2 linked regions of the Homo sapiens genome follow. The protein of the gene in region 2 interacts with the protein of the main gene of each other region in a pairwise test. Each region holds a gene or a part of one and is shown on either strand. Other genes may lie near its edges.

What was found.
Region 1: the proteins of RBM5 (region 2) and MLYCD interact in binary tests that used the Homo sapiens proteins (3 or more experiments, as listed by UniProt).

Annotation. Positions count from the first base shown.
Region 1 is NC_000016.10:83,923,105-83,927,555, forward strand, and holds the end of MLYCD (malonyl-CoA decarboxylase, mitochondrial), read left to right. Parts: 3' UTR 1-3,927; downstream 3,928-4,451. UniProt on the Homo sapiens protein: Catalyzes the conversion of malonyl-CoA to acetyl-CoA.
Region 2 is NC_000003.12:50,091,907-50,098,940, forward strand, and holds part of RBM5 (RNA-binding protein 5), read left to right. Parts: intron 1-136; coding exon 137-302; intron 303-1,813; coding exon 1,814-1,969; intron 1,970-7,034. UniProt on the Homo sapiens protein: Component of the spliceosome A complex. Binds to ssRNA containing the consensus sequence 5'-AGGUAA-3'. Regulates alternative splicing of a number of mRNAs.

The DNA.
Region 1 (4,451 bases), on a different chromosome or scaffold from region 2:
CTTCCCTCTGAGGGCTTGACCTTCACTGACCTCCAGGGCAAGAACAACCAAGAGTTGCTCCCAAGAGGGCTTCCCTCCTCCTCGTTCTGTGTGGCCTCAGAAGTGAGGGAATCTCAGTGCTCTGTGCAGGCATGTGCTTATTCTGAGCTCTGTTTGAAATTAAACATGAGGTGTACTAAAGATTTAAATCGAGCAAACACCTCTGTGATTTCCAATTGGATTCTGAGGCGCTTACAGAAATATGAAGTCCATTTTGATCTACTCTTAGAAACAAAAGCTGCCCATGATTTCACCACAGAAAGTCTGCCTCATTTGCAGTTTAGCGGACTCACAGAGGTGACCCTAGATCTCTGTCTCGCCTTTGTTTGGTTTATTTCCACATTGCATTTGCGTTTCCCGCCTGGCTAGTTCTTGATCATTGAGGAAGGCAGAGAGAAACGAGATTCTCTGCTCTGGGCCAGGCATTCTCTGTACACGTTCCTGGTTCCAGCCTGCCTCCTTCCCTAGAGGATCACCGTGTCCAGCCCTGAAGCTGGAGCGAGTGTTCCTCACTTAGAGATGAGGCGATGAGGCGGCGAGCTGGGAGAGGGCTGAGCAGCTGGTGAGGGCAGAGTTGGGACTCAAACCCAGGCCCGACCACCACCCAGCTCTCCTTCCACCGCACTGGTCCACCTCCTGACCGTACGTGGGGAGACCCACGCAAAGGCCCAGAGAGGAGAAGGCCAGCAGTGGGCAGAACAGAGTGGGCCGCAGGTTTTGGCAAGCCTGGAGGGGAATAGGTCAGAAAGGTAGCCCGGCTGGGCTGAGAGACTGAGGACAGGGGGTGTTAGGGTGCTGACATTCTGGCAAGGGGGCGGGGGTCTGTGGAAGACAACCCCAGGCTGGGGTGGCTTCTCTCAAACCCGGGCATGCACAGTGCTGGCCGTATCGGTCCGAGCCCTCGGCTGCCAGGGAGAGAAGCTGAGCTCCCACCAAAGCATAAAATCCAGGCCAGCGAGGGGCAGCCAGACCACGGGAAGACAGGAGGAACCCGGACCTGGCTCTCGTGCAGGAAGCAGGCAGTGCACAGCTCCGCCGCCACAGAGACAGCCTCCTCTCATGACCCCAGACTCAGCCCGGGCCGTGGTGGGAACGATGGTTGGCCCGGTTTGGAGATGGGGGATCTGGCCCTGTGGTGAGTGCACCCAGAGCAGGTGTCTCTCCGGAGCAGTTGAGTAGAACAGCTGGCGTCACCTCTTCATGTTGACGAGGGGAGATGAGTGGCCCAGGCAGTTCCTAGAGCGGGGGAGATGGAGTGGGCCGTATCCCACCCAGCAGGAGCGCTTGCTTCTGAAGCTCCCGTGCGTCTGTGACAGAGGCTTGAACCCCCGGCTTGTTCTCTCACGTCTGTTGCCGTAAATCTGTCTCCATCGCCTGGCACATAGGAGAGGCTTGGCAAATATTTTTGGTTCACTGAAGAAAGGCAGCCCTCACTCCTGCTGCTCAGACAGCACCCCCTGAACGTGAGTTACTGCCTCCTTGAGCACTTTCGCAGGAGAGAAGACCAGAGAGCTGCCTTCAAAGATGCCAGAGCCATGTTTATTTAAGCGGCGCTGCTCCAGAGAGAACTGGCCATTTGCAGTCTCCACCCCAGTGTGGCTCACGATGCCACCTCTCCTTGCCAGCTCTCACCGAGGCCCCCGGTGACCTCCTAGGGGGTACATCCAGCCAGGTTCCCCCTCAGCAATGGCCAGGGGCCACCGTGGGCCACACTGCACTTCCCAAATGCTCCCGGCACTGGCACAGATGCACACCCTCTTGGCCATCCCCACCTGTGCTCCGCCACTCTTAGTCAGCCATTCCTCTCGGCTTCCGGGAGTCCCCTCCTTCTCTAAGGATCTCACCCCCATCCGTGTCTCTGCTGTCTCCTAACTACCGATAGCAAGGGCACTAGTGCCCCTGTTTGCCGGGGACAGGCCCTGTCTGGGGCCCTGGTGTGGCATCATTGTTAACAGAGCTTCTTTTCACTCTGAAGTGTTCAGTTAGGACAGTCACTTGCACAGTCCCCTCACTGGTGACACAGACACCCCATACCTGTGTGTTTCCCCTGCATAGCTCAGCAGCAGCTCAGGCTCAGCACGGCCAAGGCTGAATGCAGATGCCCTCCCTCCAAAACCTGGCCTCCTCCAGCTGTTCCTTCCTGGCGAGGCCACCTCCAACTGTGTAACACAGAAGCCTGGGTGCCATCCCTGGGGCTCCCCTCACCCCCACCTCCCACCCGTCCCCGGGCCCCTGGACAGACCACTGGCCTTGTTCTCTTCATTTCCCTGGCCCAGGTTACAAAGTCTCCTTCCTGATTATGTGCATTAACTAACCTCGCAGGTGCTCTGCCCACCTGCCTACGCCAGACTCTTCCAGATCCTTCTCCACCCCAGCAGGCAGAGTTGTCATTGTGAAATGCAAATCAGGTTCCATCTCTCCTCTCCTTTCCTACCTCCCACCATCCCCGTCACCCTCCCTGTCACACACAGCCCCCTCCGTGGCCTCTCAAGCCTGCTGTGGCCTGACCCTCCCCTCTGCTTTTCCAGGCCCTCCTGGCACTGTCCTCCCTCAGTCTGGGACTCCCTGTCCTCCCTCCTTCCTGCGTGGCACATGCTCCTCCCTCTTCTTGAAACGCTCTCCCCTCCCTGCCTCCCAGGCAATGCCCACTCTGCCTCCAAAGTTCATCCATCGTCCTCTCCTCAGGAAGATTTCCCTGGTGGCTTGACTAGGTCACAGTCCCCCTTTATTTGCCGTCTTCTCACTGGGGCCTCTCCTTCCTGGTAGCTTCTAAACAAGGCAGTTTCATGTGTGTATCTCCACTAGACTAGACGCTCTCTGAGGGCAGGGACCCTGCTTCGCTTCTGGCCCGAGGTGGCTGCAGGGTCTGCAAGATCATCAGGGCCCCCTCCAATGTGACACTTGCAGAGGGGACCCCTGGCCTGGGGCCACGCTGGTTACTTGGGTACACTCCTTGCCCAGGGTTCCACAGCCCCTTAAAGGCAGGGTCTTTCTGGCCACGCCTGGCCCTGGTCTGGCCTCCCCAAGGAGCCCTGCCGCTGGGGGTGCTGTGTGGGAACAGAGCACAGGCCCTCCCTCCCAGAGCCCACGAGATCTCACTTTCTCCAAGCCCAGCTCCCCAAGGACTCAGACCCCAGTTGCCCTGCACTGAACGCTGGCTTGCCCTAGCTCACTCGGACCCCACCCTGCACTGGGAAGGAGGGTCCCTGTCCCCGTTTGACGGGTGACGACACTGAGGCCCAGAGAGCTGAAGGGGCTGGCCGAGGGGACGGGCTTGGGCGCTTCCATTCTCACACTGCTGCCGTGACACCTAATCCATCCGGGGAAGTTCCCTTTAAACCCAAAAGGGGACGGTGAAGCCACACGCGGCCGCCCTTCTCAGGAGCCCACTTCCACCTCTCGCAGGCTAGACAGCGTTCCCCAAGTCCCCCCTTGAGCTGGGTGGGCTGCCCAGCTGTGAACACAAGGACACCTCCGATTTCGTCCTGTGAATGTTGATATTAGTGGTCCCTTCCTTCAGGGGCTGTGGGGATCTCAAAAGATAAGGCAGGTCTGGAGTCCTGCGCGGTACCTGCCGCATGGCAGGCTCTTTACGGACAGCGCAGGGACGCACTTTGATGCTGAAAATGAGTCTCTGGGACAGATGGATCCCAGTCTGGGTCCTCGCAAGCGCTGTGCACCCCGTCGCCGCGAGATGGCGGTGTTGCGCCCCTCCAGCCTCCTCTGCTCTGCGCTTGGGCGCTGAATGTTAAAATTCCTAACAGGTGAATCGCTTGAATCCGGGAGGCGGAGGTTGCAGTTGGCCGAGATGGCGCCACTCACTCCAGCCTGGCGACAGAGCGAGACTACGTCTCAAAAAAAAATAAAAATAAAAAAATAAAATCCTAACAGGTAGCATACCTGCACTCGGAACTTGCACAGCCGCTCCCCACTCTCTCACAGGGATTAGGTAACGATACTCAGAGCTAGAGCAGGCATTTGGGACTGCCCAAACCAGCTGCTCTTCCTGCTTTCTGAAGCTTCCCCGGGGGAATCTTCTGGCTCCCAGTCCGAGCCTCCTGTGGTCAGCTCCTCCTTGCCCAGTCGTCGTTTGCAGTACAGCAGGGGCGTGGTCATTTGCAAATGTCCCAGAGGGCCCCCTCCAGTCGCTTCACATCGGTCTCAAGTCGGGCTGACTGAGGGCATGACTTTCTGTCTCAGGCATGGAGCCCAGATCACAGATCGAAACTCCGCTAAATCTAGAGGCCACGGGTCCCAAACACCAGTCATTTGCTGAGCACTGTCGCAATTTTTTTATATCCCTCCCATCAATACAAGCTGGATTTTTTTATTAAGTAGAAGCTAAAAGTAAAAAGTAATATAAAAACAAAACAGCATTAAACTTCAGTTAGATACATTTGCTTTCTCTCTTC
Region 2 (7,034 bases):
TGGTAATACTTTTTAACACTTTAAACTATTTGGATTATCTTATAAACTGATCTGTGGGCCGTGTGTATTTTTAACTATGTCTTTTAAAGGTACAAAATGTGACTGACTTTAGAATGAAAATTATTTTCCCTGGCAGAGTGAGTAGAACAGAGCGTAGTGGAAGATACGGTTCCATCATAGACAGGGATGACCGTGATGAGCGTGAATCCCGAAGCAGGCGGAGGGACTCAGATTACAAAAGATCTAGTGATGATCGGAGGGGTGATAGATATGATGACTACCGAGACTATGACAGTCCAGAGGTGAGTGACCAGCGGCTGTATAACCCCCCAAAACACTCTGAGCCTTATAGTAATAGAAATAACAGCCAGGCAGCCAGGTCCAGTGGCCCCTTCCCATAATCCTATCACTTTGGGAGGCCAAGGCGGCCAGATCACTTGAGGTCAGGAGTTTAAGACCAGTCTGGCCAACATAGTAAAACCCGTCTCTACTAAAAATACAAAAATTAGCTGAGTGGGGTGGTGGGCGCCTGTAATCCCAGCTACTTGGGAGACTGAGGTAAGAGAATCACTTGAAACCTGGGAGGCGGAGGTTGCAGTGAGCTGAGATTGTATCAGTGCTCTCCAGCATGGGTGACAAAGCAAGACTCCATCTCAAAAAAAAAAAAAAAAGAAAAGAAATAATGGCCAGGGTTTACATAGGGATCACCATGTACTTTTGAGCACTTGACTTCATGAATTCATTTAGGTCTCAGTACAACCTGATAAGGTAGGTGTTATTCCCATTTTAAAGATGAAACAATGGGGTTATGATAACATATTAGTTCTGTGTTTTGAAATGAATGATAAATATAAGTTGTTGGCCAGGCACAGTGGCTCACACCTGTAATCCCAACAATTTGGGAGGCCGAGGCAGGAGGATCCCTTGAGCCCAGGAGTTAGAGGCCAGCCTGGGCACCATAGGGAGACCCTGTCTTTAAAATAATAATAATGAAAAATAATAAATATAAGTTGTTGTTTTGGTCATCTTGATATATCTTTTTTTTTTTTTTTTTTTTTTTTTTTTGAGACAGCTTTTTAGTCTTGTCACCCAGGCTGGAGTGCAGTGGTGCGACCTCAGCTACTCAGGAGGCTGAGGTACGAGAATTGCTTGAGCCTGGGAGGCAGTGGTTGCAGTGAGCTGAGATCATGCCATTGCACTCCAGCATGGACGACAGAGGGAGACTCTGTCTCAAAAAAAAAAAAAACCAGAAGGCCGGCACGGTGGCTTACGCCTGTAATCCCAGCACTTTGGGAGGCCGAGGCGGGCGGATCATGAGGTCAGAAGATTGAGACCATCCTGGCTAACATGGTGAAACCCTGTCTCTACTAAAAATACAAAAAATTAGCTGGGCGTGGTGGCAAGTGCCTATAGTCCCAACTACTCGGGAGGCTGAAGGAGGAGAATTGCTTGAACCCAGGAGGCAGAGGTTGCAGTGAGCAGAGATCATCGCACCACTGCACTCCAGTCTGGGCAATAAGAGTGAAACTGTCTCAAAAAAAAAAAAAAAGAAAACACAGCAGGCTGGGTGTGCCTATAATCCCAGCACTTTGGGAGGCCATAGCAGGAGGGTCATTTGAGGCCAGGAGTTCAGACCAGCCTGGGTAACATAGTGAGACCCCTGTCTCAAAAAAAAAAAATTGCAGTGAACATTACCATGGAGTGCTTGTGTAATCTCTGTACACTTCCTGCTAAGGATAATTTCTAGGAGTGGAGGGTCTGTTTCAAAGAGTACAGGGTGATGTTAATTGTGATTTTGTTTATTGTAACTCAGAGAGAGCGTGAAAGAAGGAACAGTGACCGATCCGAAGATGGCTACCATTCAGATGGTGACTATGGTGAGCACGACTATAGGCATGACATCAGTGACGAGAGGGAGAGCAAGACCATCATGCTGCGCGGCCTTCCCATCACCATCACAGAGAGCGATGTAAGGGGAAATGACAGTTATAACCAGCAGTCAGTAGGCACAATGAACTTTGAGCTTCTACCATTATTTTCTCATGCTATTGTTTTATCTTAAGCCAATAGAGGTTGAGTATCCCTTATCCAAAATGCTTGGGACCAGAACTGTTTTGATATTTTTTTTTAATATTTGCATTTACATAAGTTTAAACATTTGCATTTACATAAGTCTAAACATGAAATTCATTTGTATTTTGTATATGTCTTATACATGCCAAAGGTAATTTTATACAACACTTTAAATAATTTTTTTTTTTTTTTTTTAAGACAGAGTCTTGCTCTGTCACCCAGGCTGGAGTGCAGTGGTACAACCTCGGCTCACTGCAAGCTCTGCCTCCCGGGTTCACGCCATTCTCCTGCCTCAGCCTCCTGAGTAGCTGGGACTACAGGCGCCCGCCACCGCACCCGGCTAACTTTTTTCGTATTTTTAGTAGAGACGGGGTTTCACTGTGGTCTCCATCTCCTGCCACCCGCCTCGGCCTCCCAAAGTGCTGGGATTACAGGCGTGAGCCACCTTGCCCGGCCAACACTTTAAATAATTTTATACACAAAACAATGTGTGCTTTGTTTTTTTGTTTGTGATATTTTTGTTTCTGTTTTTTACAGGCAGGGTCTCATTGTCACCCAGTCTGGAGTATAGCAATGCAATCATAGCTCACTGCAGCCTCAAACTCCTGGGCTCAAGTGATCTTTTTACTTCAGTAGCTGGCAGGTGCATGCCACCACACCCAGCTAATTTATTTTTTGTAGAGCCAGGCTGGGCTAAGTATGTTGCCTGGACTAAAAGGTTTGACTGCCCTCTTGTCTGTGACCTTTCAAATAAGGTCAGGGGTGGAATTTTCCACTTGTTGTGTCATGTTAGTGCTCAGAAAATTTCAGATTTTGGAGCATTTCAAATTTTTGGATTAGGGTTGCTCAACCTGTATCTATCTCAGCTAGTGAAATATTTTTCTGTCTTTAGGGAAAAGTTCACTGAACTAGGTTCAGAAGTAAGTTACCATTTTGGCCAGGCGCGGTGGCTCATGCCTGTAATCCCAGGCACTTTGGGAGGTCGAGGCGGGTGGATCACTTGAGGTCAGGAATTTGAGACCAGCCTGGCCAACATGGTGAAACCCTGTCTCTACTAAAAATACAAGAATTAGCTAGGTGTGGTGGTGCATACCTGTAGTCCCAGCTACTTGGGGAGGTGCTGAGACAGGAGAATGGCTTGAACCTGGGAGGCGGAGTTTACAATGAGCCAAGATCACGCCATTGCACTCCAGCCTGGGTGACAGAACAAGACCCTGTCTCAAAAACAAAAAGAAGTAAATTACCATATTTAGGCTTTGAAGCTCAATGTATGAGTTTTCTAAATGTCTTTAACCACAGGGAGCAGGTCTTCTGTCTTCATTAGCTCCTAGAAGATAATCAATATATTTTTATTGAATTAGTTACTTATTAGATGAGGATGATTGGTAAATACCTAATTTTCTTTATAATCTGGCCACCCTTTTATTTGTTGAAAATTGAACTACCCATTTGAAACCTCAGAAAAGCTTGTTAAAAAGGACGGCTCATTCAGACTGGCCAATTAGAGTCTTAGTGTACTTGGCACTGCCTGATTTCCAGCAGCATCTCTGGTCCTCACCCTTCCTTCCAGCCACACCCTACTTTCCACATCCTGGACTTTGGACATGTCCATTGCTCTACTGTTGTGCCTTTTTCTGCTTGGAGACGCCTGTATGTAAAGCCTGATCTATCGGGCAGAGCTTCTTCTTCGTTATTCTCTTCCTAAGGCACTGTATTCATGACTTTTGTGTAGCACCTTTACTGTAGCCATCAACACACATGTCTCATCTCTACCACAAGATCTCTGAAAATAGGCCTCTGTGTGAACTAGTCACCTCTGTGTCCCCAACCCTTGAACACAGTATGTTACTCAGCCAGTGCTCTTGGTAAAAATGAATGTGAGGTTTTAAAACAGCAGTGTGCCAGTATTTGTTTTCTTGGAGTAATCAAAGTAATATTCTGACTAATGTTTAGTTGAATTTTGGATAAAGCTCAAAATAAGCATTGGATTCCCGTAGCTTTGGGTTTCTAAACCCTGGAAGTAATGAATGTGACAAATGTGAGACAGGATATTAGAGTTAATAGTGGGTAATCATTCCATTATTTGTGATCCACTGCACATCTGCTACACTGTACATGTTAGATGCTACAGTGACACAGAGCTATGGATCTTGCCTCAAAAAAGCTTATGGATGAGTAGCTAAGGTCAGCAGATAATGGTGACAATGCAGAATAGAAAGGGGTCAGAGGCCGAGTATGGTAACTCATGCCTGTAATCCCAGCACTTCGGGAGGCCAAGGTGAAAAGAGTGCTTGAGCCCAGGAGTTCAAGTCCAACCTGGACAACATGGTAAGACGCATCTCTCCAAAAAAAAAAAAAAATAGCCAGTCTTAATGGCGCTTGTCTGTGGTCCCAGTTACTTGGGAGACTGAGGCAGGAAGATCACTTGAGCCTAGGAGGTCAAGGGTACAGTGAGTTGTGTTCACGCCACTGCACTCCAGCCTGAGCGACAGAGCAAGACCCTGTCTCAAAAAGAGGGTCATGTCGGAAAAGGTCCTATTGAAAGAGGTCTGCCTAAGAGCTCTTGAAGGTTATTTAAAGGAAATTGTTACTAGTGGAGGGTAAGGAATCTTCTATTTTTATTTTTGTGAGACAGGGCCTTACTCTGTCGCATAGGCTGGAGTGCAATCGCGTGATTGTGGCTCACAGCAGCCTCCAACTTTTGGGGCTCAGGCAATCCACCAGCCTCAGCCTCCCAAGTAGCTGGGATTACAGGCATGTGTCACCACTCCGAGCTAATTTTTTTTTTTATCGTTTGTTTTTTTTTTTGTAGAGACAAGGTCTCTCTTTATTGCCTAGACTGGTCTTGAACTCTTGTCTTCAATCAATCCTCCCGCCTGGGTCTCCCAAAGTGCTAGGATTATAGGCGTGGAAAACTAAGGGAATGGTGTGGTAGATGGGCCCTTCAGGCGGAGGGGTATCACATGAGCAGGGAATAGAAAGGTACTGAATCTAGATAAGGCCTAGCAATCGGCTTGATTTGGCTGGAGTCAGAGGCTTTTGGCAGGAGAGGGATGAGTGGCAAAGTGCTATTGTGGCTAGGGGCTAGAGTTCTCAAAAGTCTAGCTAAGCCTAAAAGAATATTACTGAGGGTTGGCCAGGTGCGGTGGCTCACGCCTGTAATCCCAGCACTTTAGGATTCTGAGGCAGGCGGATCACAAGGTCAGGAGATCGAGACCATCCTGGCTAGCACGGTGAAACCCTGTCTCTACTAAAACTACAAAAAAATTAGCCAGCCGTGGTGGCGGGCGCCTGTAGTCCCAGTTACTCAGGAGGCTGAGGCAGGAGAATGGCATGAATCTGAGAGGCGGAGCTTGCAGTGAGCCGAGATCGTGCCATTGCACTCCAGCCTGGGCGACAGAGCAAGACTGTCTCAAAAAAAAAAAAAAAGAAACTGCTACAAGTATTGATTTGAGTGTTAGAAATTTTAATGAGTGGTTGAATTCACAGGTGTGATACCTGAGGATAATGAGGATTGGCTGTGTGTAGTCTTGCAGCCGTTGCACCTAGTTATGGAAAGTAGAGGCCAGTGAGAATCTTGTTTCCACAAATTTCACCCTGTTTTTTTTTTCATGGTAGTATTCATGCCTGATATTATTGATGAAGAGACTAGTATATTTTTGTGGCCTTTTGGAAAAAGGAGTTGGTCTGACATTGGAACAAGCCTACCAGCCAGAATACTTTATTCTAGCCCCAATTAATGTTTGATTTATTAGGAGCCTAAGAATGTGATGAACTTTGAAAATTTTTACCAATAATTTAACTGTAAGAAAAGTATGATCCATTAAAAATGTTTACCTGGCCTGGTGCGGTGGCTCACGCCTGTAATCCCAGCACTTTGGGAGGCCAAGGTGGGTGGATTACCTGAGCCCAAGAGATGGAGACCAGCCTGGGCAACATGGTGAAACCCCTCTCTACTAAAATATAAAATATTAGCTGGGTGTGGCGACATGCGCCTGTAGTCCCAGCTACTCTTGAGGCTGAGGCAGAATTGCTTGAACCCAGGAGGCGGAGGTTGCAGTGAGCCGAGATCATGCCATTGCTCTCCAGCCTGGGCAACAGAGTGAGACTCCATCTCAAAAAAATTTAAAAAAAAGTTTATCATCAGGCTCTTCATTTTTTGGCTGTTGATTTTTTTCCTTATTTTGAGAGTAGGCCTCAAAGAGCAGGAAGGCTATTCTTGATTAGGCGTACTTCAGGGCACAGTGACGCATCCACTGCCTCTTTTAAATCTCATCTGAGTCCTTATTTTTATTTTTTTATTTTTTTAAAGATAGGGTTGCACTTTGTCACCCAGGCTGGAGTGCAGTGGTGCAATAGCCCATTGTAACCTCGAACTCCTGGGCTTAAACAGTCCTCCCACCTCAGCCTCCCAGGTAACTAGGACTACAGGTGTATACCATCATGCTTGGGTAATTTTTATTTTATTTTATTATTTTTTTTTGAGACGGAGTCTCACTCTTGCCCAGGCTGGAGTGCAGTGGCGCGATCTCGGCTCACTGCAACCTCCGCCTCCCGGGGTCAAGCGATTCTCTTGCCTCAGCCTCCCAAGTAGCTAGGACTACAGGCACGTGCCACCACGTCTGGCTGATTTTTTGTATTTTTAGTAGAGACGGGATTTCACTGTGTTAGCCAGGATGGTCTCCATCTCTTGACCTCGTGATCCACCTGCCTTGGCCCCCCAAAGTGCTGGAATTACAGGCGTGAGCCACTATGCGAGGCCTAATTTTTAAAATTTTTGTATACAGATGGGGTCTTACTGTGTTCCCCAGGCTGGTCTCACACTCCTGTGCTCAAGCGCTCATCTTGCCTCATCTTCCCAAAGCGCTAGGATTATAGGCTTGAGCCACTGTACTATCCTGCAGAACAAAGGACAGGGAGATTAGACTAAAGGATGGAGGCTTGAGACATCATACCACAAG